Linked DNA regions of Homo sapiens: region 1 is linked to region 2. Evidence: fine-mapped expression QTL. A gene starts in region 2. The other region holds a variant in brackets. All regions are shown on one strand. Distances are between the middles of the regions.

Evidence for each region.
Region 1: its variant is fine-mapped to the expression of SYT17 in whole blood (TOPMed, PIP 0.98).

What each region holds. Positions count from the first base shown.
Region 1 is chr16:19,202,341-19,218,014 of GRCh38, reverse strand. All of the region lies in intron 5 of SYT17 (synaptotagmin 17), which reads right to left. Among named protein-coding and RNA genes, the nearest start is that of SYT17, 42 kb to the right of the region's middle. The variant A/T (reference allele first, on the strand shown) is at 7,499.
Region 2 is chr16:19,158,384-19,174,057 of GRCh38, reverse strand. It overlaps SYT17 (synaptotagmin 17), which reads right to left and starts at 5,818. Exons shown (of 8, transcript NM_016524.4): 1 at 5,397-5,818; 2 at 1,281-1,298; 3 at 480-628. The coding sequence starts at 5,411. RefSeq lists an enhancer at 5,234-5,981 and a silencer at 6,173-6,422.

The DNA.
Region 1 (15,674 bases), 44 kb before region 2:
AACAAGGTTCAAACTCAGCCCATGGTTAACCCTTACACAAGGTTTCTGGTGATTAAGCAGCAATCCCAGACATCAAGCAACTCAGTATCTATTGGTGGAGAGCAAGGAAGATATAAAAACAAATCAAAATTCCAGGGGCTGCACACCCACTAGGATGGCTATAATAAACACACACACACAAAATCATAAGCAGTGTTGGCCAGGATGTGGTAAACAAGAACGCTGTATACTGCTGGTGGTAATGAAAACTGGTGCAGCTGCTTTGGTAAACAGGTTGGTGTATGACCCAGCAGTTCCATTCCTAGGTGTATACCTAAGAGAATAGGAAACATGTCCACATGAAAACTTGTACGCAGATGTTCATAGCAGCACTATTCACAATAGACAAAAGTGGAAGCAGCCTAAATGTCCATCAACAGATAGATAAACAAAACATCACCTATCTATGCAATGGTAGGTTATTCATTCATAAAAACAATGAAGCATTGATACAATGTAGACAAACCTCAAAAAAGTGAAAGAAGCCAGACACAAAAAATCACATATTGTACAGTTCCATTGATAAAATATCCAGAATAGGTAAATCCATAGAGATAGAAAGTAGATGAGTGATTGCTAGGATCTGGGAGGTGGGGGAAATATGGAGTGACTGTTTAATGGATACAGGGTCTCCTTTGGGTGATGGGAATGTTCCATATGGAACATTCCAATTATGGAATTCCATAATTCCAGAACTGGAATTAGATAGAGGTGATGGTTGCACACCACTGAGAATTTACTAAATGCCACTGAATTGTATATTTAAAATGATTACATTTATACTATGTGAATTTCACCTCAATTAAGAAATAATTGCAAACATATGGAAAAAAGCTCATCATCACTGGTTATTAGAGAAATGCAAATCAAAACCACAATGAGATATCATCTTACACCAGTTAAAATGGCGATCATTAAAAAGTCAGGAAACAGCAGATGCTGGAGAGGATGTGAAGAAATAGGAAAGCTTTTACACTGTTGGCAGGAGTGTAAATTAGTTCAACCATTGTGGAAGACTGTGTGGAGATCCATCAAGGATCTAGAGCCAGAAATACCATTTGACCCAGCAATCCCATTACTGGGTATATATCCAAGGATTATAAATCATTCTACTATAAAGACACATGCACATGTATGTTTATTGTGGCAATATTCACAATAGCAAGGACTTGGAACCAACCCCAATGTCCAACAATGATAGACAGGATAAAGAAAATGTAGCATATATACACCATGGAATACTATGCAGCCATAAAAAAGGATGAGTTCATGTCTTTGCAGGGACATGGATGAAGCTGGAAACCATCATCCTCAGCAAACTAACACAGGAACAGAAAACCAAACACCGCATGTTCTCACTCATAAGTGAGAGCTGAACAATGAGAACACATGGACACAGGGAGGGGAATATCACATACCAGGATCTGTTGGGGGTTGGGGGGCTAAGGGAGGGATAGCATGAGGAGAAATACCTCATGTAGATGACAGGTTGATGGGTGCAGCAAACCACCATGGCATGTGTATACCTATGTAACAAACCTGCACGTTCTGCACAGGTACCCCAGAACTTAAAGTATAATAAAAAAAAAAAAAAAGAAATAATTGTAGGGCTCAAGTATTAATCAGCAATATAAATGAAACCCAAGACAGACTGAAGCACAATCTATTCTTGGGAGGGGCATGGTCAAGGAAGTCTTCATGGAGGAGGAGGCATTTGAGTTAAGCCTTGATAAGTAGGATTTAGTCCAGCAAATATTGCAGGGAAGGGTGCCCCATACAGATGGAACAGAATGAGGGAAGCCTTCACTAAAGCCCCAATACTCTTTGTTGTGTTCTGATCCTGAATTTATCAATATTATTATATAAAAGTTGATATGGTTTGGATGTGTTCCCGCTCAAATCTCATCTTGAATTCCCACATATAGTGGGAGGGGCCTGGTGGGAGGTAATTGAATCATGGAGGCAAGTCTTTCCCATGTTGTTCCCGTGATAGTGAATAAGTCTCACGAGATCTGATGGTCTTAAAAAGAGGAGTTTCCCTGCACAAGTTCTCTCTGTTTGCCTGCTGCCATCCATGTAAGACGTGACTTGCTCTCCTTGCCTTCTGCCATGATTGCAAGGCTTCCCCAGCCACGTGGAATTGTAAGTCTAATTAAAACTCCTTCTTTTGTAAATTGCCTAGTCTCAGGTATGTCTTTATCAGCAGCATGAGAACAGACTAATACAAGGGCCAAGTAACTTATTATTAATAATAAAGTTGGCTGGGTGCAGTAGCTCATGTCTGTAATCCCAGTACTTTGGGAGGCCAAGGCTGGAGGATTGCTTGAGGCCAGGAGTTCAAGACCAGCCTGGTAAACATGGTGAGATGCCCCACTTTGCTACAAAAAAATTAAAAAATTAGCCAGCTGTGGTGGTGAGTACCTGTGGTCCCAACTATGTAAGAGGCAAATGTGGGAGGATTGCATGAGCCCAGAGGTTTGAGGCTGCAGTGAACTATGATAGATCCTTGGCAACTGAGAAAGACCCTATCTTAAAAATAAGTAAATAAAATAAAGCAGCCAAAGATGGTTAATAATTTGGATGTTTGAAATAAATTAGTGAGGATTCTCCTTAGAAACAACATCACCTTCACCCATTTACATTCCTGGTTTGTTGTTGTTGTTAAGTGTTAAAGACAATACTGGTTTCTCCCTCAGAACAGGTGTGTGCTCTTGGCCACTTAGGAGTGGATGATGCCCTCCCCACTTCTACATCAAATAAATTTTAAAAAAAGAGAAATATAATTTTTGGCAAGAATTTGGTATTTCAGAAATAGCACTGCAGTTCCCGTTGAGAAATCAGAACATTGCTGAGATTTACATTTGAGAATTATTGCAGCAGTCCTTTTTGTCCGGGCACGGTGGCTCATGCCTGTAATCCCAGCACTTTGGGAGGCCGAGGCAGGCAGATCACTTGAGGTCGGGAGTTCGAGATCAGTCTGGCCAACATGGTGAAACCCCGTCTCTACTAGAAATACAAAAAGTAGCTGTGTGTGGGGTGGGCGCCTGCAATCCCAGTTGCTCAGGAGGCTGAGGTGGGAGACTCCCTTGACCCAGAAGGCGGAAGTTTCAGTGAGCTGAGATTGCACCACTACACACCAGCCTGGGCAACAGAGCAAGACTCTGTCTCAAAAAAAAAAAAAGAGAATTATTATTATCTTGAATGACATATGGTGAGCAGCGCCATAATTTTCAGGGCTTGGGGGCCTCAGAGCCTTATCCTAACCCAGCCCTGGAGGAAAAGGAGAGTTGCCATCACACTCAGGGTCTCTGCCCCAGAATATGTTGTACGTATGAATAACATCGTTCACTTGGGCATCATAAATGTCGGCTCTAACAATCTAGGGACAAAAATGTCCCTGGGGTGTTCCTGGAGCCAGCATCTTCTCAGTCCTTCTTCCCTAGAAGTATCAGATGCTACATCTAAAAGCTGACGAGGGCCAAGCATGGTGGCTCATGCCTATAATCCAAGAGCTTTAGGAGGTCAAAGTGGGAAGATCAATTGAGCCCAGGAGTTCGGAGCTGCAGTGAATGTTGGTGGTGCCACTGCACTCCAGCCTGGGCAACAGAGCAACACATGGTCTCTAATTTAAAACAAAACAAAAAAAGCTGACCAGGAGCCAGCTGATAAGGAGCTTAGAATGTAGGAACAGAAAGCAGGACCATCTAGTCCAGCAGCTCCTCAACTTGCCCCACTTAGGAAGATCATGAAATTAATGGTGATCTTTACAGACATCCATGAGGTGCTAGGACATCCAACTTGCATCAACCTGGGGTAATTTTGTCCTCTCTGCTGCCACCTCCAGGGACATTTGGCAACATCTGGAGATGTTTTAGTTGTCATAACTGGGGAATAGGGTAGGGTCTGCTACTGGCATCTAGTGGGTAGAGAGAGACCAGGGATGCTGCCAAACATCCTACAAGGTACAAGACAGCCCCCCTCAACAAGGAATGGTCTGGCCCAAAATATCACTAGTGCCAAAGGTGAGAAATCCTGAACTAAGCCTATAAATCTTGGGCTGATTCAGATTTTTTAAATACATAACTGTACCCTGAACAAAATTTTAACAGGAACCGAAGACTTGGAACTTTTGGTATAAGAACAGTTCGTCAGGTGCAGTGGCTTGAGCCTCTAATCCCAACTACTCGGGAGGCTGAGGTGGGAAGATGGGTTGAGGCCAGGAGTTTGAGGCCAGCCTGGGCAACAAAGCAAAACCTTCCCACCTTCCATTTCTAAACTTTCTTTATTTTTATTTTTTAATTAGCTTAGCATGGTGGCATGCATCTGTGGTCCCAGATACTCAGGAGGCTGAGACAGGAGGAATGCTTGAAGCCAAGAGTTTGAGGCTATCTGATGCGAGAAGCTCCTCTTCAAAGGTTTAGCTTGTTTAGTTTCCTTGTTCTTTGTTCTCTACTTTTAAGGCCAAACTTCCTTGCTCTCTGTACCTCCCTGTCTTGGTTTCAGTAAACAACTCTTCCACTGGTCCTTATCTACAGAGCCTACATCTACTACCCACTCTGTAAATTACCCCTCCCATCACAGCAGCTCTTCCCACCAAAACTGTCCTTCCTGCCAGTGTAACCGCATTCCCGCACTTTCCAAGTTAGCCAACCAGGTTCAGCTTAGATTGTGTGGTCCAACTCCAACCTGTGGAGGCAGGACACAGTAGCAGGGACAAGCTACGTTAGGGATAAAAACCCCTTCCCTCCTTTGTTCAGTGCACTCTCATGATGACTAGACCTGTGAGAAACACCTTCCTACAGAAGTAAATTTTGCCTTACTGGGAAATCCTTTGTTTTAGTGCTCATTTTCTTTGTGACACTGCACATTTGTTTCTAACAAGGCTTTAGTAAGCTATGATTGAACCCCTGCACTCTAGCCTGGGAGGCACAGCAAGACCCTGTCTCTTAAGAAGAAAGAAAAGTCTATTCACTGCCTCCACTGAGTCTGTCTTCAGTCCCCTCTGGATCTGAAGAGGCCAAAGCACCAGCCACAATCCAGAGCCCAGAAAGATCCAGCTAAGATTTCCTTCCTTCTTCTTTCTCCTTAAGCCATTCTTTTTCACTGCAAAGTGGACATCCAAGCACCAAATACAAAAATCCTCCTAGGAAGTGGGTTCAGCCCTCCCAAGGAAAATGGATTGCTTGTTCTGGTAGGATCTCCAACTCTGTGAAGTCTTCCTTATCCAAATTTAGTGAGATAAGATTGGAATGTCAGAGCTGAAATAATTTAGACCAATATTCTGGTTTTCTAAAAGAAAACGGAACCATGCCATTACCTCACTTCCCCGTTTATTTCTTATTTATTTATTTATTGTGACAGGAATCTCGCTCTGTGGCTCAAGTTGGAGTGCCCTGGCACAATCTTGGCTCACTGTCGCCTCTGCCTCCTGGGTTCAAGTGATTCTTGTGCCTCAGCCTCCCGAGTAGCTGAGATTACAGGCATGAGCCCCCATGCCCAGCTAATTTTTGTATTTTTAGTAGAGATAGGGTTTTACCATGCTGGCCAGGCTGGTCTCGAACTCCTGACCTCAAGTGATCTGCCCACCTTGGCCTCCCAAAGTGCTGGGATGACATGTGTGAGCCACCATACCCGGCCTCACTTCCCTGTTTAAAACCCTCCATCTCTCAAAATAAAATTCAAAGTGCTTAGCCTGGTCAACAACAGGGTTTGTCAACCTCAGCACTATTGCCACTTTGGGCTGGAGCATTCTGTGTTGTGGGAGCTGTCCTGTGCGCTACAGGAAGTTTAGCAGCATCTCTGGCCTCTACACACTGGATGCCAGCGGCATCACCCCTCTCCCCAGTGGTAAAGTCTCAGAATGTCTCCAGACATCGTCAAATGTCCACTGAGGGCAAAAATCACCCAGTTGAGAACTAATGGTCTCTAAAATAATTTATCTACGGGATCGAAATGATTTGATCCAAATGATTTGATTCCTGCCTACCTCTGAGACTTCACTCACCAACCGCCTCTGCCTTCTTTCTATTCTTTAAAAATACAAGATCATTGGCCAGGCACGGTGGCTCACACCTGTAATCCCAGCATTTTGGGAGGCTGAGGCGGGCGGATCACGAGGTCAGGAGATCGAGACCATCCTGGCTAACACAGTGAAACCGAGTCTCTACTAAAAATACAAAAATATTAGCCGGGCTTGGTGGCGGGCGCCTGTAGTCCCAGCTACTTGGGAGGCTGAGGCAGGGGAATGCCGTGAACCCGGGAGGTGGAGCGGAGCTTGCAGTGAGCTGAGATCCCGCCACTGCACTCCAGCCTCGGCGACAGAGCGAGACTCTGTCTCAAAAAAAAAAAAAATACAAGATCGTACCTGCCCCAAGGCTTGAACTTGCTATTCCCTGGGAATCTCAACTCAACAGTCACCTCCTCATCTAAGCTTCCCATTAACACTCAGTTGAAAACACCCCTCTGCCTCCATCATTTCCCATCACACCACCTTGTCATTTCCTTCACGGTACTTGGTCCTTACCTTTTTCTCCATAAAGGCAAAGAAAGTGCCCATGTGTCCACTACTATATTCACAGCACCAGAAACAAATCCAAGATCAAGCAGTGCAGCCCCCAACACAGAGGCTGAGCTGCTGCCACACCACGGGCCGAGAGGGGTTGTCAGCACGATGTTCCACCCCCTGTCCTATCCAACCCCCACAGAATCGAAGCCAAGACAGGAGAAGGAACTGGGTGACAGGCCCACTTCTACCTCGTCCCTTGTGGAAGCGATGTCACAAATAAACAGGCCTCATTTCCTTTCTTGTAAGAGCCCGATGCGCTTAATTTGGTCGAACCACGTGGGGTGGGCTAGGGAGAACCAAAATAGACAATCTGTAAATTACTCAGATGAATCCAGCAGCCGGCTTGGGCAAATGTGGCTCAGCTCTCTCCTCTCTACCCAGACAAAAATTCTCTCTCCCGGCAGCCTTTCAACACAGTTAATTTCTAATCAATAAAAAGGAAATCAAAGAAAATCATCTGGGACAAAAGACATTTTCTGGAGATAGCAAGAGCCCAGCTCTCCTCCTGACAGGTTTGCTTTGAACTCCTTCTCTATGGTCCTTTCGCTCTCTCTCACCTAGCAAAGGGTTTCAAATGTGCGCACACAAATTTTAGTGAAGCCCAAACACAGCTGCTCTGCGCCCCCTTATGCCTTTGCTCTCACCGGTTGGATAAAGTCTATTGTCTCTTAATCTGCTGCACAAACAACATTAAAATAGAAATGGATTTTTTAAAAAGCAAACTCCAACCGCAATGCCAGTGCTTTACACATTTCATCAAATGCTTTCACTTCCTTTTCTTTCTTCTTCTTTCTTCTCTTCACTTTTTTTCCCAGTCTTTGTCAATACCTCAACCCTGTATTTGCATAGCTGCATTGACAATACAGTCACATTCTGAAATACCCTTTAAGAAAA[A/T]AAAAGGGTATTTAAAAAAAAAAAATACCCTTTAAAAAAAAATACCCTTTTAAAAAAAAATACCCTTAGATCAGAGGGGAGAGGATAAAGAGAAGTGGGTTAAAGGGTACAAACATACAGTTAGTGAGAAGGAAAAAATTCAATGTTTGGGGCTGGGCACGGTGACTCACGCTTGTAATCCAAGCACTTCGGGAGGCCAAGGTGGCAGGATCACTTGAAGCCGGGAGTTCAGGACTCCTGCCTCAAGCAAGACTCCGTCTCAATTAAAAAATAATAATAATAAATGTTTGATAGTAGAGTAGTGTTACTATATTTAACAAAAATGTATTGTACCAGAATGATAGAAGCCCTAAATACTATGACTTTATCACTATATATTACATATGTAACAAAATTTCATGTGTACCTCATAAATTTGTACTAATAAAAATAAAATAATAAAATATAATAAAACTAAAAGAATTACACACACATTTTCCATGTGACTATCTAGACATTATAAGTGTCATTATAAATGTTCACATACAACATTCCATTAGGCTGAAATACTGTAACTTATATTAACCATTTTCCTATTGCTAGATACTTAGGGTTTTTTGTTGTTGTTGTTGTTGTTTTTGTTTTGTTTTGTTTTGTTTTGAGACAGAGTCTTGCTCTGTCTCCCAGGCTGGAGTGCAGTGGCACGATCTCAGCTCACTGCAAGTTCCGCCTCCCGGGTTCACGCCATTCTCCTACCTCAGCCTCCCGAGTAGCTGGGACTACAGGCGCCCACCACCACGCCCGGCTAATTTTTTTTTTTTTGTATTTTTTAGTAAAGACAGGGTTTCACCATGTTAGCCAGGATGGTCTCGATCTCCTGACCTTGTGATCCGCCCACCTCGGTCTCCCAAAGTGCTGGGATTACAGGCGTGAGCCACCGCGCCCAGCCGAAATGTTGACTTTCTATGTGAGTGCAATGCCCTTCCTCCATAAGCCCCCAGTGAGGCTGACAAGCTGCATTTCACACTGGATTATATTGGTCTGTTATTGTCAGGCTTTTCATTAGTCTCATCTGATGGGTATCTTGTGGGTTTAATCTGGGTTTCCCTGACTGCTAAAGAGGTGAGCACCTTGTTGTGTTATCAGCTACTTATGCTTTCTCATCTATGAAAACCCTGCTCATTTCTTTTTGATCATTGTGTATTTGTCTTTCTCTTATTAATTTCTAGAAGGGCCTTTAAGTATTATGGATACTATTATTCAGCAATTACATGTTTTTATGGGTTGAATTATTTCCCTCCCCAAAATTCATATTTAATTTCCAACCCCCAGGATCTCTGAATGTGACCTTATTTAGAAATAATGTCCTGGCAGGGTGCAGTGGCTCGCGCCTGTAATCCCATCACTTTAAGAGGCTGAGGCAGGCAGATCACTTGAGGTCAGAAGTTCGAGACCAGCCTGACCAACATGGTGAAACTCCATCTCTACTAAAAATACAAAAAATTAGGCAGGTGTGGTGGTGGGTGTCTGTAATCCCAGCTCCCTTGAACCCGAAAGGCAGAGATTGCAGTGAGCCAAGATCGTACCACTGCACTCCAGCCTGGGTGACAGCGCGAGACTCTGTCTCAAAAAAAAAAAAAAAAAAAAAAAAAAGAAGGTCCTTGTAGAAGTGATTAAATAAGATAAGGTTATACTGGAGTAGGGTAGGCCTTAATCCAATGACTGATGTCCTGATGAAAAGAGGACATTTAGACATGCACACAGGGAGAATACCACGTGAAGATGAAGGCAGAGATCTATAAGCCAATAGACACCAAATATTGCCAGCCAACCACCAGACACTGTGACAGAGGCCTGGTACAGATAATAGCTTTGCCAACACCTTCCTGACATGATTTGGCTCTTTGTCCCCACCCAAATCTCATGTGGAATTTTAATCCCCACATGTCAGGGGAGGGACCTGGTGGGAGGTGATTGGATTGTGGGGTGGATTTCCCCATGCTGTTCTCATAACAGTGAGTGAGTTCTCATGAGATCTGACAGTTTAAAAATGTGTGGCACTTCCCCCCTCACTCTCCTGCTGCCATGTAAGCCGTGCTTTGCTTCCCCTTCACCTTCCACCATGATTGTAAGTTTCCTGGGCCTCCACAGCCATGCAGAACGGTGAGTCAACGGAACCTCTTTTCTTAGTAGTGCCCAGTCTCAGGTGGTTCTTTATAGCAGTGTGAAGGACTAATACACCTCCAATAATTGCAGAGAGTAAATTTATGTTCTTCAAGCCACCAGTTTGCGGCATTTTCTTACAACAGCCCTAGAAAACTAATATATGTGTATAGCAAACGTATCCTCCCAGTCTGTGGCTTGCCTTTTAATCCTTTTTACTATGTTTCCTGATAAGCAGAAGTTCATCATTTTAATGTGGTAGGATGCATCCCTCTTTGCCTTCATTGGTTCATACTTTATTTTCTGACTTTTTAAAGAGGTGCTTTGCTATACTAAGCTCATAAAGATCTTTATTTCCTTATAAAACTTAAAGTTTGGCCATTCATCAGTTCCTGACCATCAGGATTTGATTTTGGTCTGTGTTATGAGGTAAGGCTCCATTTTCTTTCTTTCTTTCTTTTTTTTCCTGTTTTGTTACAGACGGGGTCTCACTGTGTCACCCAAGCTGGAGTGCAGTGGTGTGATCACAGCTCGCAGCCTTGAACTCCTGGCCTCGAGTGATCCTGTTGCCCTGGCCTCCCCAAGGATTACAGGTATGAGCCACTGTGCCTGGCCCCATTTTCATTTTTGAGGGAGTGGCCACCTTGTTCCCTATCTTTCTGCTCCACGAAGCTGTGAGCTCATTGAGGGTAGTGACCTTACATAACTTTCCCCCAATGTTGGAGGTGAGGCCTGGTGGGAGGTGATTGGACCATGGAGGTGGATTTCCCCCTTTGGTGCTGTTCTCATGATAGAGTTCTCAGGAGATCTGGTTGTTTAAAAGTGTGTGGCCCCTCCCCATTCTCTGTCTCTTCCTCCTGCTCTGGCCATATGAGGTATCTCTTTCCCCCCCTTGCCTTCCACCGTGATTGTAAGTTTCCTGAGGCCTCCCCAGCCATGCTTCCTATGCAGCCTACAGAACTGTAAGTCAATTAAACCTCTTCTTTATAAATTACCCAGTCTCAGGTATTTCTTATAGCAGTGTGAGAACAGACTAATACACCTGTAAATATGACTGTCTTAGTCCATTTTGCATTGCTATAGAAGAATAACTGAGGCTGGGTAATTTATAAAGAAAAGAGGATTAAGTGGCTCGTGGTCCTGCAGGCTGTACAAGAAGCATGGCACCAGCATCTCCTCTGCTTCTGGTGAGGGTCTCAGGCTGCTTCTACTTTTGTCAGAAGGGGAAAGGGAGCTGTCGTGTGCAAAGATCACAGGGCACGAGAGGAAGCAAGAGAGATGGGGAAGGCACGAGGCTCTTTTAAACAACCAGCTCTTGTGCAGAACTAACAGAGCAAGAACTCACTTACTACCATGAGGATGGCACCTAGTCAGTCATGAGGGATCCACTCCCATGACCCAATACCTCCCATTAGGTCCCACCTCCAACATTGGGGATCACATTTCAACATCAGGTTTGGCAGAGGAAACACATCCAAACTATAGCAATGGGGGTCCACAGTCCTTATTTGGAAATAGGAGTTTTGCAGATGTAATTGAGTCAAGATGAGGTCGTACAGGAGTAGGGTGGGCCCTATATCCCATAGGACTGGATTTATGAAATGGGGAGAAGAAACATGGACTAAGACACACAGGGGAGAATGCCAGGTGAGGACAGAGGTGGAGGCTGGAGGGATGCATCTCTCAGCCAAGGAGTACCAGGATTGCTGGCAGCCATCAGAAGCCACAGGAGAGGCCTGGGGTGGTTTCTCCTGTAGAGGTCTGCAAGGAATCAACTCGGCTAACACCCTGAATTTGGACTATAAGCCTCCAGAGTTGTGAGGGAATAAATTCCTGTTGTTTTAAGGCACCCAGTGTGTATTACAGTGGCCCCAGAAAACTAACACTCTGGTGGACTAAGACAAAAGACAAAGAGTTACAGACCTCCATTGCAATCCCAGCTCTCCCACATACACTGAGTGTGTGACCTCAGCCATGCCGCTGAACCTCTCTGAGCCTCATTCCTTTCCTCCTAAGAAAAGGAGGACACATACCATATATATACCCCATGAAGTTCTAGTGGAGAAGGCTGATCTTTCTTGAAATGTTTCCGTTTGTTCACATGACACTGTCCGCTCCTGCTCTTCCTCTTACCTTCTAGCTTCTATTTCTTGGTCTCCACAGTTCTTGTTTCTTCTCTCCTGCCCTTAAATGTAGTTTTCCCCAGAATTCAACTCCTAGTCACCTTTACTTTACTTTATATGGTGTTTTTGGCAATTTTCTTGACGCCTGTCATTTCTACTATCACACTGACTATGTAACCCAAATATACTTTCTTTATGAGTTCTAGTCCTGCCTACGCCTTCTTTTTTTCTCTTTCTCCTTTCCTTTTTTTCCTTCCCTTCCATAAATATTTATTGAACATGTATTATGTACCACTAGGGAACAAGACAGAAAAAAATCCCCCTCCTTTTGGAGTTCACATTAAAGTGGAAGAAACATAATAAGGAAATTAATATGTAATGTCTGATAGCAGTTAAGTGCTAGGAAGAAAAACAAAGCTGGCATCGGGGATAGAAAGTGATAGGGCTGCTCTTTAAAAGGAAAGTCAAGGGGCTGGGTGCAGTGGCTCACGCCCATAATCCCAGCACTTTGGGAGGCCGAGGCCGGTGGATCACTTGAGGTCAGGAGTTCAAGACCAGCCTGGTCAACATGGTGAAACGCTGCCTCTACTAAAGATACAAAAAGTATCTTTGTATCTTTGTATCTTTATACCAAAGATACAAAAAGTAGCTGGGTGTGGTGGTACATGCCTGTAGTCCCAGATACTCAGGAGGCTGAGGCACGAGAATCACTTTAACCTGGGAGGCAGGGGTTGCAGGGAGCTGAGATCACGCCACTGTACTCCAGCCTGGGTGACAGAGTGAGACCTTGTCTCAAAAGAAAAAAAAAAAAAAGTCAAGGAAGGCCTCTCTGAGATGGTAACCTGAGTGAAGAAAAGAGGGAGCCATGAAGGTATCTGGGGGGACAGCATTCCAAGGAGAGACATGGTAGTGCAAAGGCCCTGAGGTAGGGCCACTCCAGGTGTGCCTGAGATACCCAGCAAAGTTGATGTGGCCGAAGCAGAGTCCAGGAGGCCACTGACCAGGGAAATAAAGTTGGAGGGAGATACAGGGGCTGAGTCTCATTTAGATTTTATGTTGAATGAGACAGGAAGCCATTAGAAGGTTAGATGCAGGAGTAAGACATGAACTGACATTTATTTTACTGTATTCCCCTGGCTGCTGGGTTGAGAAATGCAATGCAAAGGAATGAAGCAGGGAGACCCATGAGGGGCGTCCTAACACTGCAGGTGAGAAGTGAAGGTGGCCTGGACCTGGTTGTAGGAGTAGAAGGGTTTGAAGGGGTTGATGGGGCTGGCCTGATTTGCTGATGAGTGTAGGCTATGGCTCCTGGGTTTGGGGATAAATGCGGGTGTCACTGATGGATACGGGGAACACCGGCGGAGGAGCAATTTGGGGCAAAATCAACAGTCCAGGGTAGGAGTGAGACGTGAGCCAGCCACTCCAGCAGGCGGCAAACTAAGTTCAGTGTTTCCAAAGCTGCCCTCAACAGAGCCACTGAGGGTGCTTGTAAATACAGATTCCTGGGGCCTCCCAGAGCCTACTTGATCAGATTCTTCAGGGGAGGGGCCTGGGAATCAGAATGTTTCACAAGTGCCCCGGAAATACTGATAACACAGGTGTTTCAAGCCACGGCATCAGATGAGATCACTCAGGGATCTTTAGTTAAGTCCACTGGAAGCCTCCTCAGGGGTGCTCATCCTCAACACCCTGCACCCCAAACTTAGCTCATCAGCACCACCCTGCCCCATCCTCACCTGCTCCTCCTGTCTCACTGTCCAGCACCCCTAACCAGCAAGCACCTCAACGCCGAAAGCTGAGTGAGGCTCTAGAGACCTCCCTCACCCTCTGCCCTCGTGTCGTTTCCAACTCCAAAAAATCCTCCAAGCCCCCCATGCCTGTCCAAAATCACTCCTGGATCCCTCCCCCACCACATCTAAGGTCACCTTGCCCTGTTCTCAAACATTCTCAAATCAGTGGTTCTCAAGGGGGTGATTGTGCCCTGCAGGGGGCATGTGGCAATGTCTGGAGATATTTTGGGTGGTGACAAGTCGGGGAGAGGGAGTTACTAGCATCTAATGGGTGGGGCCAGGGGTGCTGCCCACAGGACGGCATCTACAACACAGAATGGTCCAGCCCAAGGTGTGACGAGTGCCAAAGCTGAGAATCCCTGCTCTAGGTCCACCTCGTACTCTGCTCCAGAAACAGCAACCTCAAATTCAAATCTGACCAGGGCCTCCCCTATTTTTTGTCTTGTAACGGCTCCCATCCCCCTCAGGATAAGCGCTAAGATCCATGGCCTGGCCTGAGGCTTTTCATTCCCCAGCTTCCGCTTCCGTCAATCTTATGTTGCACCATTGCCCACACGGTAAAACTATGTGCCAGGTAAACAGAACATTCCAGACCATCCACCAACCCCCATCCCATGCGCAGCCCACCCACAGCAGGGCAGGTATCCCTGCCACGTGCTTTCCTGTGAGCCTGAGATTTACCTCTTTCAGTGAACACGTGGCTGTTTATTCTACCAGCAGAAACTCCACCCTGTGCCAGGCAAAGGTGCTGCATTGGGCACAGAGCCATGACAGAGTCCCTGCAGCGGAGGGAACCACTCAGGATTCTGGTTTCTAACTGTGGCCTTCAGCCTAGACTGCGAGCCCTTCACTTACCACTTTATCCCCAAGATCCAAGCCAGAGCCGACATATGGGCAACCCCCTAACATGCTGACTAAATAAACAAATAACCACAGCGGAAACATTGACCAATCACTTCTGTACCACACTTGGGGCTGAGCACCTTGCTTCTTATCACATTATGTCATTCAGTTCTCAAAGGGCCCTTCGATGATGGTGCAGGCTCAAGCGATTCTCCTACCTCAGCCTGCTGAGTAGCTGGGACTACAGGCATGCACCACCACGCCCAGCTATTTTTTTTTTTTGTATTGTTAGTAGAGACGGGGTTTCACCATGTTGGCTAGGCTGGTCTTGAACTCCTGACCTCAAGTGATCCAGCCTCCTCGGCCTCCCAAACTGCTGGGATTACAGGCGTGAGCCACTGCGCCTGGCCAAGTGCTTTCCTTTATTTTCCCCTTTAATCTTCACAGCAACCCTATGGGAGAGTTACTGTTATTATCCTCATAATATATGACAGTAAAGGGATCTTTCATGCCTGAAAGGTCCAGGCATGTGCTGACATCACATTGTAAGTAGGTGGCAGAGCCAAGGTGCGAATAGAAAATACATATTGGATCCTCGTCCCCGTTGCTGGCAAAGACCTTCCAAAACCCCTGAACACTTACAGAGGTCGAGGTGGAGGGATAGCTTGAGCTCACAAGCTTGAGATCAGCCTGGGCAACCCCATCTCTACAAAAAATAGAAAAAAATTAGCAAGGCATGGTGGTGCATGCCTGTAGTCCCAGCTATTCTGGAGGCTGAGGTGGGAGGATTGCTTGAACCTGGAGGTCAAGGCTGCAGTGAGCCATCATTGCGCCACTGCACTCCAGCCTAGGTGACAGAGCAAGACCCTGTCTCAAATGAAAATAAAAATAAAATGCCCGGAATCTCCAGAATGATCAGAGTGTCTTTTGTATGTTAATGAGATGACTGGATGGGACTGGTCTTCAGAAAGATCAAAGCATGATTAAAAGGTTGGAACTTTCAGCTGCACTCCCAGACCTCCAGGGAGGGGAGGGGCTGGAGGTTGAGTTCTGACACCAATGGCCAATGGTTTAATCCATCCTGCCCATATAATGGTATCTCCATATAAACCCTAAATGAAGGGATTCAGAAAGCTTCTAGGTTAGCGAATACATCAAGGTGCTGGGAGGGTGCTGTGCCCGTTGAGGGCGTGAAAGCACCACACACAACCCCCTGCCTCATGCCTTGCCCTATGCATCCTTTCTACTTGGCTGTCCCTAAGTTGTGTCATTTATAAT
Region 2 (15,674 bases):
CATTCCGTCTACCCATCCATGCAATGGATATTTATCGAGCTTTTACTATGTGCAGGCCCTGGGCTAAGTGCTAGGGAATCTTGTCACGCTGACTTGGATGGAAACCCTCAGAATGCGGTCAGCCCCTGAAGAATATAGAGGCTCGGCTCACAGATCTCCTTTTCTGCTCGGAACCACGCTCCACGTGACTAAAAACGCCCACACGCTTAGCATTACACGGTTCGTATCTCAGAAGGCCCGATGTGCCACTAGGTGAACTAAAACCACACCACCAGCTGGTCTCGCCAGCTTGCCGAACAAAATGAGGGGTACAGAACATATCCCCAGTCTGCAGCAAAGTTGTCCCTGGAAACTCAGCCTGCTTCTCTTTCATGCCCCCAAATCCTCCCTCCCGTGGCCCAGACCCCCAACCCGCCTTCTCATTAAAAAGGAAAAGTCTTGAAATTGATTTCAGAGAAGTTCAGAGCAGTTTTACTTACAGCCAGGGAGGGGTCTGAGCAGGGAAAGGTCCCAGAATTTCAACTTCATCCTCACTTGACTGGCAACAGCTGGACTCGTAGCACTTCTGACAGCAGTGCCGGCAGGTCCATCTGCACAGCAGCAGACCAGAGATTCTAGAAAGAAAACCCTGAGGCCATTGGGGGAGGTGGGCGGGGGGATGGGGGAGAGGGGAGGTGGGCAGGGTGGGGAAGAGGAAGAGGAGAAACAACACCCAAAATTACAAGCAGCCGATCTCGGATGAGAAATAGACATTCAGGAGTTCTGGCTCTGCTGCTCAGCACTTAGAACAAAATGTTTTCCATTTCTATTTACCAACTGCAGGCACAAAGATAGCAAACATCAACTCGCTGGAGCCGTTAGTAGCAAGCAAAACATTTGCAGGTATTTTCTTTTGTAGTTTATGTGAACGTCTTTCTTGACATGTGGGTGGTTTATACAACATCATAAGGGCTATACGATATGTTCGAAACACAATGAATATTACTGTGTCTTCTTGAAAGCAGGGGAAAAAATATTTTTAAAAAATCTCGGTGACATGAAACAGACAGAGATAATCAAACGGAATAAGTAGGGGTGGAGAGGGAAACTTGTCTTGTCAACTGGTGTCTTTTCAAAACCGGGATCTCCTTTCGGTAGAAAGGAATGGAAACTGTGCCGTTATTAACACCAGGTTATTGTTGAATATTCAATATCCCCACAGCCCCACATAAGACTCCAAAATGAAAGTCAGGCATTTCTTGATTAGAAACCAGACCAAACAAATCATCAAATGAACCCACCTCGTTTAATGGTTCCAACTGCCCTTTTAAGATCCACGATGAAGCCAAGGGCGTAAGGGAACGAAGGGGTTAAAGAAAGAGAGACAAGACCAGTTTAGCAATATTCCAGCAACTCAAAAAAATTTTACAAAAAAAAAAAAAAGCCCTGCATATTTCCACTTACCATCCTGGGAAGGGAGCTGACTTCCTAACATCCTAACAAGGTGTTGCTATTTTCAGGGCTGCTGGTAGCCTCCTGGTTAACCAACACCAAATAAATGGGAAACTTTAGCATTTCGATTTGATTTGCACCGTATGCTGTTATGAATCAGAGCGGGCGGATAGATAGTCATGCTATCCAATGCAGCCACACTTCAGGAGAAGAGCAAACCTTCCTATACAGAAATAGCCATGTAGCCAACCCAAAAGGACATGATTAGCTAACATGCAGGCAGGCACACAGTGGATGTTACTTGGCTCCCCCGCCCTCCCGGAGGCCCTACCTTCCAATTCTGCTCCAATGGTGATGGTGGGGTGTTTCCTATCACCACCCACAAATAGAGGGAACTAAAAAGGAAGCCCTAATCTGGTCCTCTTGAGGAAGGAGGTCCTCCCTTCCTGTTGTGGCCCCACCCCGCCTCCCCATCTTCGTCTCCTGGGTTCTCAAGGCACAGACTCCCTCCTTCTCTTTAAGGTGGTTTTCCAAATGGGCCAAGTAGGCTAGATAGGTTAGAAGTACTGCATCCCAACCTCGGGCATGTCCCAGAGGTGAACTGAGGTGGGACTCAAACTCAGAACTTTGAATCAAGAGGGAGAAAGTTATTATCTTTTTTCCGATTCTCCTTTAAGGAGGAGAAAGTCTCAATTTGGTACCACTACATGTTAACATCTTTTACCACTTACCAATTTCCACCCTCCCCCATCCCCTTTCTTTTAAACAAAGAAAGTAGATCTTGTCCAGAGGCTTGGAGACAGCCACGTCCACCTAGAATTCAGTAATGTGGCATTATTCCCATTGGGTTTATTCTTCTAGTTGCCTTCTGCGATGTCACATGATCTTGGTTTCCTATGATATTAGTGACATAATGTTTCCTTTTCATATGATTTTTTTAAAGTAAAAATAAAAATGAGCCCATTTATAGAAAAAAAATTAAGTTAATAATAGCATAGGTAGGGCTGGGCGTGGTGGCTGATGCCTATAATCACAGTACTTTGGGAGGCCAAGGCGGGTGGATCACCTGAGGTCAGGAGTTTGAGACCAGCCTGGCCAACATGGTGAAACCCCCTCTTTTCTAAAAATACAAAAAATTAGCCAGGCGTGGTGGCAGGCGCCTGTAATCCCAGCTGCTGGGGAGGCTGAGGCAGGAGAATCACTTGAACCTGGGAAGCAGAGGTTGCAGTGAGCCGAGATCGCACCACTGCACTCCAGCCTGGGCGACAGAGTGAGACCCTGTCTAAAATAATAATCATAATCATCATCATCATCATCATCATCATCATCATCATCATAGTATAGGTGGTACGTGGCTTGTGAAAAAATTGAAATCCTCGAAGTGGTAAGGGAATAGCAACAGCTTGGGAAATAGTCAAAGGCACTTATCACAAACTCTCTAAAGCCAAAACTCAAACCATACACAGAACAAGACCCAAAGGTGCTGAGGGGCCACGCAACAAGCTGAGCCAGGAAGTACTAGAGTCCTAGTCTCACCATCGACTGATCATGTGACTTGGGCAAGACAGGGGGCCTCTCTGAGCCTCGGTTACCTCTTCTTTAGTGGAAAGGCTACTCTATACCTCAAAGGCGTGCTGTTGAGGTGGGACAGGACACTGACTATGCAAATACTTGCGTGCGGTCCAGCTGAAAAATAAAATGCACCCTTTCTGTGATGAGAATTAGGTGATTGTCAAGACCTAGTGGAACCCAGTAGGCACTGGGTATTGTCCCGGCAGGTACAGCAGGGCACAAAACAGCAAAATATTATACCCTCATAGGGCTTGCATGAAAAAGTGCTTTAGAATGTTAGGATAAAGTGATACTTTTTCATAATAATCTATGACCATTTTCTGAATACAGGGAAGCATTTCCTAGACATGTGGTGGTCAAAAGAGGCCATTTATGAAACCAAAGTGAACAGAGACAAGGTCACCTCATGGCCCTGCTGAAAAACAGCCTCCCCAACTTTCTCAAAGCCCAGGTGCAAGATGAGTGTCAAGGAGCAGAGAGAAAGCAAAGAAGATGAAAGAGGGTGCCCTGACATTCCCAGGCATGCTGAGTCTTTCTGGCATTGGGTCTCCTGGGCTCACGTGTTTGACACCGATGGAAGAGAACCAATTCACACCAGAAAGAAAGAGGAAGAAAGACAACCCATGCATTCTAAACAGAGGTTGGCAAACTAAGGCTCGCAGATCAAAACCAGCCCCGCAGCCTGTTTTGCTACAGCCCTTGAGCTAAGAATAATTTGTGAGTTTTTAAAAGGTTGAAAAAAAAAAAAGATGAATGCCTCTTGACTCGTGCAAAGTATACAAAATTCAAATTTTGGTGCCTGCAAATAAAGTTTTATTGGAACACAGCCACGCCCACTCATTTACTACTGTCCATAGCAGTTTTGGTGCTATAGTCAGAGTGGAATAGTTGTGACAGAGACCATGTGAGCCTCCAAGAGAAAAAAAATAGTATCTGGCACTTTACAGGACAACAAAGTTTAACACCTTGTTCTAGAAGGAAAACCAACATCACTGGGTCATCGCCATATGAGATGCTTAACATATCTACCACAGTCCCCTCTTGAGATCCCACCTTGACCCCTAAGCAGCTATGTGGCCTTGGGCAAGTCACTTAATTTCTCTGTGCTGAAGGCGGCCATTAAGAACTCCAGGAGCCGGTAATCATGTTCATTTCTCACTAAATTGCGCACCCAGAGGGGCAGGAACTGTGCTGTTTTCATCACTGTATCCCCAGTGCCAGCACTTAGTAGGCGGTCGCCCAAGTGTTTGTTGGGCGACTACTCAATAGCCCCTGGACAACATTCAGCACACAGTGGGTGGACAGTAATGTGACCTTCATTGAACTTGAAGAGAAACTGGCGATTCCACGAAAGGGAAGCCAATTCAGGGAATCTAAGGCAGGAGATGAATGGAAGAGGCTCCGCCAGGTGACACAGCACAGAGTTCCCGGCAGGCTGAAGCGTCTGAGGACACGATGAGGGGATATGTGACCCAGAGGGGAATGGGAGGACCAGCAGCACCCCCAGCTGTGGCTGAGGGGACAAGATGTGAGCCAAGATGCACCCTGGACGTGGGAGTCTGTAAGCTTCTCTGCCCAGCTCAGAGGCGCCAGCGCCAGAAGCAAGCAGCTCAACGGGTCTCACTGCGGGTCTGCCTGCTTGACCTTGGCGCTGACCTGCGGTCACTTCCCTTCTTGCAGAGGAGAAAGGTCTTTTCACCAAGAAGCCCGGCCCACCCCTCCGCCCCCTCCCCCCAAAAAAGGCTGCTTAGAAATTATTTCAGAATTATTTCAGCCCAAGGATTCTTGGGGGACGTTTCTTCAAGGTGAAGAGGGTCCACATCTCCCAGACCCCAATGCAGCGGAGTAAAGTAACAGGCTCCCTTCTCTTCACCAGCGCGCCTCTGGCCTCTGGGTGTCCCCCACCCCTCAGCACCCAGTGCCCAGGAGAGACGACGTCCTTGTCCCTCCTGGTCGGAACAGCTGCCTCAGGCTCGCTCCGCCGGCCAATTAGCCGGAGCCGTCACCACGGCAACGGCAGCTGGCGGGCCGGGTGGCTGGCGCGCCCCGGGCCGCCCTCCCCACGGCCCCTCCCCTGGGGTGGGGTGCCAAGGAGAGGGAGGGGGCAGGGGAGAAGAAAAGTCCGCCCCACCCCCCATTCCCTCCCCAAGAGGCAAGGGCGCGCGTTGCAGAGTACACATAGGACCCTCCATCCCGGGGTTTGGGGGTCCCCAGTCTCTCCTCCCGGGGCGCACCCCTGTTGCTGCACAGGTTGCCCGCGCACGGGCACCCTTTTTCTCGAAGCAAGTTTGTGGGAGCCTAGCCGTGGGCCCTCCCTTCCGCGCGCTCCCAGCCGGAGGGGGCGCGGCACCCCCTACCCGCACCCCGGACCTTGCCCCCAGCCTCAGCCCTACCTGGATGTACGCCATTTTCGCCCGCGCGCACTCACTCCGGCCCGGGCATGGCGCCGCCACGGCCACTTTGCCCTCGCCAACAGCGGAGGGGGAAGAAAGCAAAGGGGGAAAGGAAGAAAAAGGCAGCCGGTGGCCCCAGACGTGACTGGCGTGGCTGATGAGCGGCGCCCGCCCCTCCGCCGGCCGCCCCGTCCTTGCCTTTCCCTGCGTTCCGGCTCTCGGAATCGGGGCCGCCTCCCCGGTTCGGAGATATCGGGCGCCCAGGGCCCCCGCCTCGGCCTCCCTCGCTGTCCCGTGCTCCCCACCGAGGCGCTCCCCAGGCTGGAATAAGGCCGGGGCGCCTGGGCAAGCAGCCCGGGGCAGCTGCGGGGACTGCAGCGACCCCAGCGCAGGCGGGGCCGGAGACGCCGGGGCCGGAGCGCGCAGGAGGCGGGGGAGGGGATGGGAATGGGGAAGGGGGTGGGAGGGGGCGGTACACAGGTCAGCCCATCCTGCTGGCACGGGGGCTGGCACCTACCGAAAGCAGCGCCCCCGGGGCAGCCGTGGAGCCGAGGGGACACAGTGCAGCCTGCCATGAAGTCTGCAGCAGGGAGGGTCCTTCCCATCCAGCCCTCTCCCCAAACTGGGTTGGAAAAACTTTATTCCCGCCCCACCCGACGCGCCTAGCACGGTTGCGGTGAGGCTTGCAGAGGCTGCGTGGATGGGAGCCTCAAGTTAAGGTGGGCGTAGGGCGTCCCAAACGGAGGTGCTGCGTCCAGGGCTGCAGGGGGCGCGCGGAGAGAGCGGAGCGCCCCTTTACCCTAAACCTGCCGGAGTTGCGCCCTGGACGCAACAGGTCTAGCGCGGGGCGGCCCGGCAGCGCCACCCAGCGTCGTGCCCGGCCTCGTGCGCTCCTCTGCCCACGGGCAGGCGGCCGCCAGCGAGCGTGCGCCCCGGGGCGTGTCCACCGCCGCCCTCCTGCCTGTCCTCGTGGCTGGGGCGCCCTGGACCCAGAGGCCTCCATCAAACCTCCCAGCCCAAGGCCTCTGGCTCTCCACTCAGAGATTCGAGGTGGAACATTGCCCTCCGCTGGATTTCTTATTTTATTTTATTTTATTTTATTTTATTTTATTTTATTTTATTTTATTTTATTTTATTTTATTTTTGACACAGGGTGTCACTCTGTCACCCAGGCTGGAGTGCACTGGGGTAATCTTGGCTCACTGAAACCTCCGCCTCCCAGGTTCAAGGGATTCTCGTGTCTCAGCCTCCCGAGTAGCTGGGACTACAGGCACATGCCACCACGCCCACTAATTTTTGTATTTTTGGTAGAGAAAGGGTTTCACCATGTGGGCCAGGCTGGTCTCGAACTCCTGGCCTCAAGTGATCTGCCTGCCTCGGCCTCCCAAAGTGCTGGGATTAGGGGCGTGAGCCACTGCGCCGGGCCGGTTTTCTTTTTAATATGCCCAGTCATCTCCTGTTGCCGGACACCAGCTTATCAGCATTTTAATTTTAACCTCCCAGTGCCTCTTTTTCCTCAGTAAAAACAGGAGAAAATCTCCACCCTGCCTATCCTCCAGGGCTGATTTGTGGGAATAAATGAGAAAATGAATATGGGAGTAACAAAAGATGGATATTCAGATGCATATATTTTTTGTCTAAAAATCTAGCAGACCTATACATTTTTTAGTATGATATATTTAGTTTGTAGCATATAGCACGTAACGCATATTGAGTGCTTATGATTCTGCAGGCATACACGCCTCAACACTTCACAAGCGTTATTTCATTTCAACCTGCAGTACCTTGATCACTCCTATTAGGTAGCACCTGTCCAGCCAGAGTAGGCACTCAGTAATTGTTTTTGTTGCCTTATTCACTCTGCTTCCTGAGGGAGGTGCTATGATTATCTCCAATTTATGAGGGACTGCAGCCCAGACAGGTAAAGCCTCTATGAAGGCCTGACAGCTGGTAGCCCAGGGCACTGACATTTGAACCCACAAGTCCAGCAGTGAACCCAAAGTGGCCACTCCTAACCACTTTGTGGTATTTATCCACAATCTTTCTCCAGCACTGATGGCAAGGCATGCCAGGTGGGGAGTGAGCCTCACAGAGGAGGATGCCTATTGGAACGGGTGCTCCTTGGGGGCACTTGAGGGAGTTCGAGGAATTTGCTAGGTGTTCCCATAAGTAAAAATAGTTAACCCTTTTTCACCTGAGGTCAGGAGTTCGAGATCAGCCTGGCCAACATGGCGAAACTCCGTCTCTACTAAAAATACAAAAAATAGCCGGGCATGGTGGCAGGTGCCTGTAATCCCAACTACTCAGGAGGCTGAGGCTAGGAGAATCACTTGAACCTGGGAGGCGGAGGTTGCAGTGAGCTGAGATCGTGCCACTGCACTCCAGCCTGGGTGACAGAATGAGATACCATCTCAAAAAAAAAAAGTTAACCCTTTTTGAGGTCTGTGTACCAGGCACTGTTTTCAGCCCTTTACACAAATTTTGATCTTTTAATTCTCTGATTACCATGAGGTAGGCACAAGTACTATCCCACTCTTTAGGTGAGAAAAAAAGAGGCATTAAGAGGTGAAGTTGGCCAGGCATGGTGGCTCATGCCTGTAATCCCAGCACTTTGGGAGGCCAAAGTGGGTGGATCACTTGAGGCCAGGAGTTCAAGACCAGCCTACAAAAAGTTTCTTTACAAAATACAAAAATTAGCCCGGCATTGGTGGCTCACACCTGTAGTCCCAGCTACTTGGGAGACTGAGGCTGGAGAATCGCTTGAGCCCAGGAGATTGAGGCTATAGTGAGCTGAGATCACACCACTGCACTCTAGCCTACATGACAGAGTAAGACCCCATCTCGAAAAAAAAAAAAAGAGATGAAGTCATTTGCCCAAGGCGTGTCATGCCAGGCCACTGTTAACTCCTTTAGGAATAGTACCATGTCCAGGAGGCCAAAAAAGAGACCTAGAGACAGTGAACGAGACACAGGGTTTATTGAGGGAACTTACATACAGGGACAATCCAGTGGCAGCTGGCTGGACAGGAGAACCTCTACTGTTTATATAAAAGCATGCAGTTTATGTAGCATTTTCACTTAGCACCCTCCACCTAGCAACTTCCTTTTGGCCCTTTAACCCAAAACAAAGGGCCTCGATTGTTTATATAAAAAACATGTTTATATAAAAAGCATGCAGTTTATATAGCATTTTCGCTTAGCACCTTCTATCTAAGCAACTTCCTTTTGGCCCTTTAACCAAGGGTTTTGGCTCTTTAACCCAAAACCAAGGGCCTCAATTGCCTGTACAGCCTGCATTCCAAGGGATAGGCAGGGGACCCAGACATCCTTCATAGATAAGGAGTGAATCTCCAGGTTGGCCACTCCCGGATTCCTTAGCTCTGAACTGTGAATACACATTCTTCTTAGACCATAGGGTCGTTCGCAGGGTAAGCTAAGTTCAATTATTGCCGTCAAATGTGTCTGCCCTGCAGGGTGTGTGTGGCTTCCAGGAGCTGGGATTCAAACCTAAACCTGAATCCTTTCCCTAGCCCCTGCACCATGTTGCCTAATAATGCCTGATCTTGGAGGAGGGGGATGACCCCGTCCCCAGAATTTTTTGGTACCTTAATCCCTTATGACCTGAAACTGTCCAAGAATACTAAGCACCTCTCGAGCAAAAGAAGAGGTTATTTAAAATGCGGATAATAGAACCTGCCTCTGGTATTATGAAATGCTTTAAATGTATGCAAAGCACCTGGCAAAATAGGTGTTTGATAAATGCTTGTTGAATGAGCAAATGGGTTGCAACAACAGCTAACATGGACACTTTCAACTCTCAGACAACTGGTTATTATGATTGAGTGTTAAGCCCTTCACATTTGTTTTTGTTTCATCCCTACTGGAGCCTTACAAGGTGGGTACTGTCATGGTCCCCAGTTTACGGGTGAGGAAACTGAAATCCTGAGACGAGAAGCAAAGTGAGTTGCCCAAGGTAAACAGGTGACAAGAGACAGGGACAGGACAAAAATGCAGGTCTGGTTAGCAATAAAGTCTCAACTCATCATGGCTGCACCATCGTCAGATGAAAGAATGGACGAGAAATCAGTTTAAGTCCTTCATCAGGGGAGTGTCAATGAGTTCCAGGATCCCACTGCTTTGCAAGCCTCTCCTGCCTTTCACGGGGACATGAAGTCCAGCTTTTCAATGTAACTTGGACTCAGATCAAGGCTGTGCCTGCAAAGCTGGCACCTTTACAGATCTCAATGAAGAAGGCCCCAATCAGGGAGGTAGACAAATGCATGGAATTATATGTGACCTGTGGTGTGATAAAGGGAGGCTCAGGGGACTGTGGGGTTACAGGTGAGGGGCCCCAACCTCGTGTGATGAAGGATCACAGAAGGTTTCCCAGAGGGGCTGACATTAAGCTGAGTCCCAAAGAACCAAAGATGGGGAGTGGGGCTTATTTGGAAGGTCCATGAACTTAGAAAGAAAAAAAGTTGCATCACCATTGTCACCAACCTCCTTCTGAAATTTAGTGTTTCCTTCCATTATGACTGCAGGCAACCAACCAAAACAAGCTTAGCACTTACTCAGGACTTTGTCACCAACAAAGATCATGTGTAGTCTATCTCATTACACTTGCAGTTGTTGCAAATGACTTGAAATTTCATTTATGTTCTTTACTGCTTGAAAATTACAAATAGTTATTAGGCCCACCTCTAAATTGTCTATTTAATGTGTTAACAAAGAAGCAAAGACATGACCATATTTAAATTTGTTTAAATATTTTGATAACTGTATATCAGTGTTCATTATAATTTCATTATCAATCTATGTATTCTATTCTACGATTCTAAAAACATTATTCCAAGAGGGCTCTATAGGCTTTGATGGACTGCCCAGGGTTTCATGACACAGAAAGTAGTAAGAAAGCCCTGAAGGTAGCTTCTGCATTAGCTTAGAGGTGAGAATGGGAACTAGGGAGAGGTGGGTGCCAGGTGTGGCTCCACAGGTAGCAGATGCCACATGTCAGGCGGCCTCCTAAGTTACCCCATGGAAAAGCAGAGAGGATTGTGATCAGAAAGATTTTGGCAGGGCTGTGTGCATGTCTGTCTGTCTGTCCACCTGGCTGTCTTTGGACATGGAGCAGACAAGCCTGGAGGCAGGGAGGCCAGTGAGGAGATGGTTGCAACAATCTAGGTGAGAAGTAATGCGAGTCTGAACCAAGATAATGGCAGTGAGCCAATGGCAGTACCAGAGTGAGAGGTGATGAGGTCATGGAAGGCAAGGAAGGCTAGAGAGATGCAGGTGTGCTGCAGGAGGAGGAGGAGTTTGTGTCTGGATATGAGTCTCAGATATGTATTATCTAGGGTTCCTGGAAGAAGTCCAATTCAATCCAACTTGGGCAGAAAAGTATTTATGGGCTCATTAACTGGAAAGTCCAAGAGCAAATCCTGTGGGCATGGCTGGAAATAGGGATGCAACTGAAGTCATAAGAGCTCACTCTCTATATATATATCCCACCTCTTTACAGCATCTCTCTGAAAATCAGGGTTTTTATATTTTCTTCCTAGAGTAGGTTTGCTTTACATGGCAGGAAATGGCCACTAGTGATCTTAAGTTTATATTCTTACAGTTTATGCTCCAAAAAGAAAAGACTTTTTTTTTTTTTTGAGATAGAGTCTTGCTCTGTTGCCCAGGCTGGAGTGCAGTGGCATGACCTCAGCTCACTGCAACCTCCACCTCCCAGATTCAAGCAATTCTCCTGCCTTCACCCCCCAAGTAGCTGGGATTACAGGCTTGTGCCACCATGCCTGGCTAATTTTTGTATTTTCAGTACAGACGAGGATTCACCACGTTGGGCAGGCTGGTCTCGAACTCCTGACCTCAGGTGATCTGCCCAGAGACTCCTTTTTTTTTTTTTTTTTTGAGGCAGAGTCTCACTCTGTTGCCCAGGCTAGAGTGCAGTGATGCAATCATGGCTCACTGCCGCCTCCAACTCCTGGGCTCAGGCAATCCTCCCGCCTCAGCCTCCTGGGTAGCTGGGATTATAGGTGCTGCCACCACACCTGGCTAATTTAAAATTTTTATTTTGTAGTCATGGAGTCTCGCTATGTTGCTGAGGCTGGTCTCAAACTCCTGGCCTCAAGCAATCCTCCCACCTTAACCTCCCAAAGCACTGGGATTACAGGCATGAACCACTGTGCCCGGCAAGAAAAGAGATATTTATACCAAATCTAATGGAAAACTTCGGGCCCTACTTAGGTCTCATGCCTATTGTTGTCCAGAGGACCCTGTACTCTGCTTCAGTTGGCCTGGACCAAGTGACCAGGTGGACAGGGATGTGTGAGCACCATGAGCTGTGATCCCACAAGGGCTGCAGAGAGGGGAGGAGTTAGTTCTCTAAGAACAGCTGCTGGGAGACAAAAACAAAAAACATGGCCACGATGAGATCACATTGGAACACTCAGGCAGAGATGTGCAATGGGAAGTTTAGATGGTTCTGGAATTCAACCCCTCTTAACACAGAATGACATTCAGAGCTGATGAGCAGGGAATGAGGCCTCCGTCACTTCCTGAAGGTATCCAGGGGCTCATTTTTATCTCCAGCTTCTAAAAGGAACCAGGCCTTTCACCTTCTTCCCTTGAACACCCACCCACCCAGCCCTGGATGGCAGAGACAAGCATATAATAATGGTCTTCTCTTCAGGATCCTTAGATAGGTAGTTAGAGGTGCCAAAGCAAACTACGGTCCTGAAAATACCTATTATAATTAAAAAGCACCAGAATTGCAAAAGCAGCCCCTCGCATCCATACGAACAACACAGATTCTGGTTAGGTGACTTTCTATTTCTGCAATACAGGCTGATGGCACTTGTCTCCTAAGTCAGTTTTAATTATACAGCTTCCCAAACATGCTATTCAGATCTTATTTTAGCTATACCTGTAACCCTGGGCAGTGTTTTTGAATGCCAGGAAAGTAAGAAGGCCCCAGGCTAATTAAATAGCTTAGTCTGAAATAGGAATGGCAGCCTCTTGTTAACTATGATCCCAAGAGCAGACATAACCAAGTAACCCCACATGGAAGTCCGACTCCTTTCATCTCCATCCTCCCCACGGGCTGTGTGGTTTGATAGCAAGAGATCTGACTTGGGCCAGGCGCCGTGGCGCATGCCTGTAATCCCAGCACTTTGGGAGGCCGAGGTGGGCAGATCACGAGGTTAGGAGATCAAGACCATCCTGGCCAACATGGTGAAACCCCGTCTCTACCAAAATACAGAAAATTAGCTGGGTATGGTGGTGCACACCTGTAGTCCCAGCTACTCAGGAGGCTGAGGCAGGGAAATCACTTGAACCCGGGAGGCGGAGATTGCAGTGAGCCCAGATCGCTCCACTGCACTCTAGCCTGGTGACAGAGCAAGACTCCGTCTCAAAAAAAAAAAAAAAAAATCCAACTTCTAGTCCAGCCTTGCTTACGTGATAGCTGTGTGACCTCAAGTAAGTCACTTCACCTCTGTGAGCCTCAGTTTTCCTCATCTGCAGAATGGGTATACTCCCCTACCAGGCTGGTGAAAGATAAAGCAAAAGAGGAAAATATACTTGAAACACTGACATGTAGTTCACGAGTAGTAGTTCTCTGTTTCTTCTGCTTAAAAGCATAAGTTTATTTTTATTTCTTTTCATTTTCTTTTCTTTTCAAGACAGGGTCTCACTCTGTCACCCAGGCTGGAGTGCAGTGGTACAGTCACAACTCACTATAGCCTTGATCTCCAGGGCTCAAGTGATCCTCCCATATCAGTCTCTCAAGTAGTTCAGACTACAAGCACACGCCACCATGCCTGGCTAATTTTCAGTTTTTTTTGCAGAGATGAGGCCTTGCTATGTTGCCCAGGCTGGTCTCGAACTCCTGGGCTCAAGCGATTCTCCTGCCTCGGTCTCCCAAAGTGTTGGGATTACAGGCATGAGCTGATATACCTGGCCCCCTCTTTTTTTTATTTTATAGTTGGAAGAGAAGATCATGTTAGGGAGGAAGAAGGGATAACATGGAAGTTAAAATCCTGGACTTCGGAGTCAGCCTGCCACTTACTAGCTGTGTGACCTTGGACATGCTTCTCTGTGTGGCTCAGCTTCCTCCTCAGTGAACAGGATAATAACAGCCACCGTTTAGTGGAAGTAAAGATTGAGTGGGCCAATCTAGATTTATCCCTTAGCACAGCGCCTGCTACCATTTATTTACTCAATAAATGCTAGCTAGTACTATTTGTTATTTTGAAAATATAAACACATCACACAGACAGGTTATATTATTACTAGCCATTATACTGGTACTTTATTTTCTCTGAACAATTTTCTTGTTTTCTTTGTGGCTCACACCTGTAATCCCAGCACTTTGGAAGGCGGAGGCAGATAGATCACTTGAGCCCAGAAGTTCAAGACCAGCCTGGGCAACATAATGAAATTCTGTCTCTACAAAAAATACGAAATTAGCCGGGTGTGGTGGTGTGCACCTGTTTTCCCAGCAACTTGGGAGGCTGAGGTGGGAGGATTACTTGAGCCTGGGAGGTTGAGGCTGCAGTGAGCCAAGATTGTGCCACTGCACTCCAGCTTGGGTAACAGAGTGAGACCCTGTCAAAAAAAAAAAAAAAAACAAGAAAGAAAGGTTGAAAAGACAGAACAACACATCAGACAGGAGGACAGCCATTCATCAAACTTGACTGTGCATAGAGAGTAGGGAGCTGTGCTATATTCTGGAACTCCTTATTTTCAGACTCCTCACCCAGAGATTGTGATGCAGTAGATTTAGAAGTGAGGTTTGGGGATTTGCATTTCCTAACGAGCTTCCCTAGAGATGCTGATGCAGGTGGTCTAAACTTTGACCTTGACCTTAGCATGCTGGGACATCATTTTGGTGATGTGCACACACTTCCTACCTAGGACGATGCCCACCACCAGCCAGGCTGCACCCGCGGCCCCCTACCCCAAAGGATGTTCCATTGGCTAAAACAGGTCAGAGTGGGAGATTGCACAGAGCGGGAGGATTGGCCTAATGGTGCCCATAAAGCCCTGAAGATGTTTGACTCACCCATGATGCTTGACCTCCAGCCAGTCCCTGCCTCCTACCAGACATCTCTTCATCTTGCATGCTGTCTGCTGATATCACTCCTAAGGATCTTGCTTAGGGGAAGGAGTCTGATGGTCTCGCCTTTGAAACCCTCTGAAGCCCCCGTGCCATCCTACCTCCAGCCTCCACACTGGTTCAAGAATTTCCACTACAGATGGTTCCTGTCTGAGTCTGGTAGCTACAGTCAGCCAAACCCTCTCCACCCCATGATTCAGAAAAGGGTAGCTAATTATGTAATCTTCAAGAAGGAAAATGTGAGGGCAATTTAATAATGGGCTGCAAACATATGAAGGGTTATTAGCAGGAAGCTGGTGACCACCTGTTCCCTCTCTCTGCCGCTGCTAGGATGAAGAGAGGTAGGATTTACCTGCAGAAACCAAAGAGAGCTTCAGGGTAGGCATAAGCATTGGTAGCTCTGATGTGGTTACAAGAGGCGGCATGTGAAATCTGCTTTCCTGGGACTCATGAAAAGGGAAGAAGCGTTGGATCTGATGTGGTGTTTCCTTTAGAGGCAGGGAGGAGGGCATGAGGCTGTGAGCAACTTTGAGACAGGGATTTTGGCTTGCTGAGCCCAGATCCCTGGCACCTGGTACTCTGTAGACCAGTGGTTCTCAAAGCATGGTCCCTGGACCAGCAGCATCAGCATCACCTGGGACCTTGTCAGAAATGCAGAATCCCAGGTCCTTCCTATACGGACTGAATCAGAGCCTCTAGGGGCCAAGAAATCTTCCAGGTGATTCTAATGCTGGCTGAAGTGTGAGAACCATGAAGCTTTCAAATTTACTGTGCATTTCACTCAGGGAATCTTGTGAAAGAGTCAATAAGTCTGGGCCATGGCCTGAGATTCTGCGTTTTTAAAAGCTATTTTTTTTTTAATTTAGGTTTGAGTGTACCTGTGCAGTTTTGTTACATAGGTATATTGTATGATGCTGAGGTTTGGGCTTATAATGATCCCGTTGCCCAGATAGTAAACACAGTACCCAATAGGTTGTTTTTCAACCATTGCCCCCCTTCCTTCTCCTCCCTTTTGGGGTCTCCAGTGCTTATTGTTCCCATATTTATGTCCATGTGTACCCAGTGTTTAGCTCCCACTTATAAGTAAGAACATTCTGTGTTTGGTTTTCTGTTTCTGCATTAATTCACTTAGGATAATGGCCCCCAGCTGCATCCCTATT